2 linked regions of the Homo sapiens genome follow. The protein of the gene in region 1 purifies or fractionates together with the protein of each later gene. This does not show direct contact. Each region holds a gene or a part of one and is shown on either strand. Other genes may lie near its edges.

Region 1 (3,500 bases):
AGGGCTGCTTCTGGGAAGGGTGGCAGGCACACTGAACTGGGGATAGGGTTAAAGGAGGCTTTGGCTATATTTCTAATTGCTTTTCCTTTAAACAAATAACCAGAAGCAAAAAAAAAAAAAAAAAAAAAGATGTTAGCAAATGTTAATTCTCAGTTATAGAAAAATGGCTCTTAATTACATTATTATACTTTTGTTAACCATAAATTTCTTAGAAAAATAAAGGAAAAGGATTTCAAAGTGCTTAGTTTTGTGATACCTCATCCCCTACACCTACTTAGATAGGCAGGCCACAACATACGCAGAAGCTGTGTTCTCAAAGTTCATTGGTTTTTAGACCTTATTTGTTTTCCCATCAACACAATGTTATACCTAACTGTTAGGTTCCAAGGCCAGCTCTCCCATTATTTAATGTATAACCTAACAAATGTTAAGCCTAACAGTACCTCTCTCACCTTCTCTAATCATGAGGCAACTGATCACTCACGATATGGCAAAAAGGGAACCCAAGAGTTGAGTTTACCCCTGCTCCTGACAGGGCACAGGCTAGATGTTTCTTTTCTTTTCTTTCTTACTTTCTCTCCCCTCTCTGTCTTTCTTTCTTTCTTATAATAGAGATGGGCCTCACCATGTTGCACAGGCTGGTCTCAAATTCCTGGCTTCAAGCAGTCCTCCTGCCTCAGCCTCCCAAAGTGCTGGGATCACGGGCATGAGCCACGGTGCCCAGCCCAGGCTTGGTTGTTTCTTTTCTTTTTTCTTTTTTTTTTTTTTTTTGAGACAGAGTTTTGCTCTTGTCATGCAGGCTGGAGTGCAATAGCATGATCTCAGCTCACTGCAACCTCCACCTCTCAGGTTCAAGCGATTCTCCTGCCTCAGCCTCCTGAGTAGCTGGGACTACAGGTGCCTGCCACCAGGCCTGGCTAATTTTTGTATTTTTAGTAGAGATAGGGTTTGACCAAGTTGGCCAGGCTGGTCTCAACCTCAGGAGATTCGCGTGCCTCAGCCTCCCAAAGTGCAGAGATTACAGATATGAGCCATTGCACCCAGCCCCAGGCTAGGTGTTTCTGTGTACAGAATGTTTTCAAGTTTGCTGGTCAGGCTTTATACATACATACATACATACATACGTACATATACATACATACACTTATATGCACACATGTATATATATAAAATATATACATATATAATATACACATATATCTTTAAAATATATAATATAAACTAAGTATGTATCAACTTATAAACTATACACACATATATGATATAAACTAATATAGTAATGTGCCACATAAGGATGTTTTGGTCAAGAACGTACCCCATATTCCACGGCAGTCCCGTTAAGACTATGATGGAGCTGAAAAATCCCTACAGCCTAGTAACACAGCTTTCATGATGTTGTAGCACAAAGCATTACTCACATGCCTGTGGTGATGCTGGTGTAAATAAACCTACTGCACTGTCAGTGTTATAAAAGTATAACACATACAATTATGTACAGTACATAACACTTGATAATGATAATAAACAACTACATTACTAATTCACATGTTTACTATACTATATATTATTATTTTAGAGTGTAACTCTACTTATTTAAAAAATTAACTATAAAACAGCTTGAGGCAGGTCCTTCAGGAGGAATTCCTGAAGAACGCACTGTTATCCTAGGAGATGACAGCTCCATGCCTATCACTGTCCCCGAAGGCCTTCCAGTGGGATGAAATGTGGAGATGGAAGGCAGTGACACTGATGATCCTGACCCTGTCTAGGTCCAGGCTAATGTGTGCGTTTGTGTCTTGGTTTTTAACAAAGAAGTTTAAAAGGTAAAAAGAAAGTTAAAAAATTTAAAGTAGAAAACAGCTTACAGAATAAAAATATACAGAAAATATTTTTGTACAGCAGTACAATGTGCTTGTGTTTTAAACTGTTATTACAAAAGGGTCAAAAAGCTGTAAAAAAATTTTTTAAGTTCATGAAGTAAATAATTTACAGTAAGCTAGGTTTAATTTATTATTGAAAGAAAAAAGCGTATGAATAAATTTAGTGTAGCTTAAGCATACCGTGTTTATTTTTATTTTTCATAATGTCTGCTCAGTAACAAGTGTACAGTGTTTATAAAGTCTACAGTAGTGTACACTCATATCCTAGGGCTTCACATTCATTCACCACTCATTCACTCACTCACCCAGAGCAACTTCCAGGCCCACAAGCTCCATTCATGCTAAGTTCCCTAGATAGGTCTATCATTTTTTATCTTTTATAACATATTTTTACTTTACCTTTTCTATATTTACATATGTTTAGATACAAAAATATTTACCATTGTGTTCCAATTGCCTGCAGTATTTAGTACAGTAACATACTGTGTAGGTTTGTAGCCTGTAGCCTAGGAGCAACAAGCTATACCATATAGCCTAGGTGTGTAGTAGGCTATGCCATCTACATTTGTGTTAAGTACACTCTATGATGTTCACATGACAAGGAAATTTCCTACTGACAATGTATTTCTACTGTTAAGTGATACATAACTATATGTATATTAGTTTGTATTGTTCAGTAATGGAGAGATTGTGTTAGACTCTAGGGGCCAGGGATCAAGTAACTGTACTAGGGTCCCCAACACTTAGGTGCCATGGCAATAAATAAATGAAGAGCTAACCAAATGCCTGCATTCTGGACAGCTCTGTTTAAAAGGTATTTCATGGAGTTTTTCATTTAATCAATAGAAATCCAATCACTAGGCCAGGCATGGTACCTCACGCCTGTAATCCCAGCACTTTGGGAGGTGGAAGCGGGTGGATCATTTGAGGTCAGGAGTTTGAGACCAGCCTGGTCAACATGGTAAAACCCCACCTCTACTAAAATACAAAAATTAGCCGGGTGTGGTAGCACATGCCTGTAATCCCAGGTACTTGGGAGCCTGAGGCAGGAGAATCGCTTGAACCCAGGAGGCGGAGGTTACGGTGAGTGGAGATCGCACCACTGCACTCCAGCCTGGGCGACAAGAGCGAAACTCTGTCTCAAAAAAAATAAAAATAAAAAAAGAAAAAAAAAAAGAAATCCAATCAATAAAAGCAGAGAATAGTTTCCATTCAGTAAGTGGTAAACAACAACTAATGCATTTGGCACTTTCTCTTTCACAGCTTCTATCTAAAGCCAATCTCATGAGGCACCAACTTTCATACCAGGCACTATCACTTCTCTGCTTCCTATATCTCCCTCCTCTCCCAGAGACAGAATGTTTCAGAAAGTAGATTTGCTGCCTAAGATTCATGTCATTGAAGCTGCAGTAGAAGAGTCATTTAATATATGAAATATAAGGCAAGACTTTTCAAAAAAAATTCTCTCTCAGAAAATACAAGTCACTTTATATTCAAATACTTACAAAGTACCTCTTGCTGTAGGAAGTTTTGCAATTTCCTTATTTTGAATACAAAGTACCAGCTGGGGATGACACAATACCCTAAAACAACCTCAGTTAAGGCTGCTTTGGCTAATGG
Region 2 (3,500 bases), on another chromosome or scaffold:
GTCCAAAAACCACGCCATACACTCAGTCACCTTACAGTTCTTAAAACATTTATAACATGAGGATTTCCATTTTGAAAGATCACAAAAGACTGCAATCTCACATCCAAACCGCTAGAGAGGGTGCAATGAGCCAAGATCACGCCACTGTACTCCAGCCTGGGTGACAGAGAGACTCTGTCTCAGAATAAATAAAAAGTAAACTGCTAGAGAAGAAAATGTTTTTCAAAGAGTAATCTAAAAAGCAGCTGTCTCTATAACCCACAAATTCCCAAAGACTAAGCCACATGTCCCCACCAATTCCAGGGTGTTTTATTGACACACCCACACAGAAGAGGCCTCGATATTAGCTGGGGCAAAATGCATGTAATTTAAGAAAGCCGCCGGGCGCAGTGGCTCACACCTGTAATCCCAGCACTTTGGGAGGCCGAGGCGGGCAGATCATGAGGTCAGGAGATGGAGACCATCCTGGCTAACACGGTGAAACCCCGTCTCTACTAAAAATACAAAAAATTAGCCGGGCGTGGTGGCAGGCGCCTGTAGTCCCAGCTACTTGGGAGGCTGAGGCAGGAGAATGGCATGAACCTGGGAAGCGGAACTTGGAGTGAGCCGAGATGGCGCCACTGCACTCCAGCCTGGGCAACAGAGCGAGACTCCGTCTCAAAAAAAAAAAAAAAAAAAAAAAAGAAAGCAAATGTTTACTTCAAAGTGTTTCTAAGAATGATGCACCACAGAATAATAATAATAGTAAACATTTATGAGCGGCATAATGAGAAGCAGTATAGCGCTGTAGTTAAAATCTAGAGCTAGACTTTCTAGGATTCAAGCCTGGCTCTGTCACTTACCAGCTGAGTAAATTTGGGCACCTGATTTAACCTCTGTTTCCTCATCTGTAAAATGGGAATGGTAATAGTACATATTCCACACGGTTGGTATGGAGATGAAATTGAATCGATTCTAAGTAACGCATATATTGAAAAAACTTTACTATGGAAAAGTTCAAACTTACACAAAAGCAGAGATTACATAATGAATCTCCACATACTTTTCACTCATCTTCGATGATCAACATTTTGTTGATCTTGCCTATCAGCCTGATTTTGCTTAAGCTCAATATTTTAAAGCAATCCCAGACACATCATTTCACCTATAAATATTCCAGTATGGGCCAGGCGTGGTGGCTCACGCCTGTAATCCCAGCACTTTGGGAGGCGGAGGCAGGCGGATCACTTGAGGTCAGGAGTTCGAGAGCTGCCTGGTCAACATGGCGAAACCCTGTCTCTACTAAAAATAAAAAAAAAATTAGCCAGGCCTGGTGGTGTGTACCTGTAATCCCAGCTACTCAGGAGGCTGAAGCAAGAGAATCGCTTGACCCCAGGAGGCGGAGGTTGCAGTGAGCCAAGATTGGGCCACTGCACTCAAGCCTAGGCAACAGAGCAGAACGCCGTCTTAAAAAAACAAAAAATACACACACACACACACACACACACGTATATATACGCATATATATGTGTATATATGCGTATATATGTATATATACACATATATGTGTATATATATATGCGTATATATGTATATATACACATATATGTGTATATATATATGCGTATATATGTAGATATACATATATATATACACACATGTGCCTGTGATCCCAGCACTTCGGGAGGCTGAGGTGGGTGGATCACAAGGTCAGGAGATCGAGACCATCCTTGCTAACACAGTGAAACTCTATCTCTACTAAAAAATACAAAAAATTAGCCAGACATGGTGGCGGGCACCTGTAGTCCCCGCTACTCAGGAGGCTGAGATGGGAGAATGGCGTGAACCCAGGAGGCGGAGCTTGCAGTGAGCCGAGATCGCGCCACTGCACTCCAGCCTGGGCGACACAGTGAGACTCTGTCTCAAAAATAAAATAAAATAAAATAAAATACATATATTTAATACCATTTTACAATAATTGACAATATCAACAGATAACAAAATTAACAGCAATTCACTTTTTTAAATTTTTTTTTGGCTGGGTGCAGTGGCTAGCTCCTGTAATCTCAGCACACTGGGAGGCTGAGGTGGGCAGCCTGCTTGATCCCAGGAGTTCAAGACCAGCCTGGGCAACATAACAAAACCCCATCTCTGCAAAAAAATACATAAATTAGCTGGGCGTGGTGGCACACGTCTGTATTCCCAGCTGCTTGGGAGGCTGCGGTGGGAGGATTGCTTGAACTGAGGAGGTCGAGGCTGCAGTGAGCTATGATCACACTACTGCACTCCAGCCTAGGTGACAAAGTAAGGCCCTATCTCAAACTATATAAATAATTTTTTTTTAAGCCTTGCTCTGTTGCCCAGGCTGGGGTCCAGTATATGATCTTACGATCTTAATTCACCATAACCTTTAATTCCTAGGCTCAAGTGATCCTTTCGCCTCGGCCTCCCCAAAGTGCTGGGATTGAGGCATGAGCCACTGTGCCCAGCCCAGTGGTAATTCTTTTTTTTTTTTCTTTTGAGACAGAGTCTTGCACTGTCACACATGTTGGAGTGCAGTGGAGTAATCTTGGCTCACTGCAACCTCCGCCTCCCGGGTTCAAGTGATTCTCCTGCCTCAGCCTCCCGAATAGCTGGGATGACAGGCGACTGCCACCATGACTGGCTAATTCTTGTGTTTTTAGTAGAGACAGGGTTTCACCATGTTGGCCAGGCTGGTCTTGAACTCCTGACCTCAGGTAATCCGCCTGCCTCGGCTTCCCAAAGTGCTGGGATTATAGGTGTAAGCCACTGCGCCTGGCTGAATGGTAATTCTTTAGTAACATGTAACACCTCATCTGTGTTCAAACTTCCCTGATTTAATACTCTCAATCTAATTTTTCTGGATGTGTCAATGACATGTCATAGTTCAATAGCATTTTTTCTGTATTAATTGAATATAATGGTACATTTTACAATCAATGACATCTTACATTTGATAAAGTATAATATATGTAGTGTGCTTAGAACTGAGGGCTATGTATTCGTATCTGTTCACCCAAAATTGGACACTTACTGTGTTCCAGACCTAATCTAAGCTCTTTACATGTTTTATCTCATTTAAGCCTCTCCACAATCTTATGAGGTATGTATGCACTGTTACCATTCCCATGTTAGATATAGAAAATCCAGGCATAGAGAAGATAAGGTCTCAAAGTCATGAAGCTAACAAGTGGTACAGCCATTATTTGAACCCAGTTTACTCCAGATCCCACACTCTAAATCACAATGCAGCATGGATGCCTAATATTCTCAGGTCAGTCCATCAACTTCCAAGTAAATGAGTCTCCAAAAGCATCAAAGGTATTATTTCCTTAAAATGATTAAATACATGGATTTGCTTTCAAATTCATGTTTCTAATACTCAACTATAATATATCTTAAATCTCTGGAAGTCCTTTAATCAATTTTTCAGATGAATTTTTTTTTTTTTTTTTGAGACAGAGTCTCACTCTGTTGCCCAGGCTGGAATGCAGTGGTGC

Evidence for each region. Proteins that work in one complex are often made in the same cells at the same time.
Region 2: the proteins of FNTB (region 1) and PITHD1 purify together in Homo sapiens (affinity purification with mass spectrometry, with the first as the bait; 3 studies listed by BioGRID). This does not show direct contact.

The regions. Positions count from the first base shown.
Region 1 is NC_000014.9:64,993,395-64,996,894, reverse strand, and holds part of FNTB (protein farnesyltransferase subunit beta), read right to left. Parts: intron 1-3,500. UniProt on the Homo sapiens protein: Essential subunit of the farnesyltransferase complex. Catalyzes the transfer of a farnesyl moiety from farnesyl diphosphate to a cysteine at the fourth position from the C-terminus of several proteins having the C-terminal sequence Cys-aliphatic-aliphatic-X.
Region 2 is NC_000001.11:23,781,418-23,784,917, reverse strand, and holds part of PITHD1 (PITH domain-containing protein 1), read right to left. Parts: intron 1-3,500. UniProt on the Homo sapiens protein: Promotes megakaryocyte differentiation by up-regulating RUNX1 expression.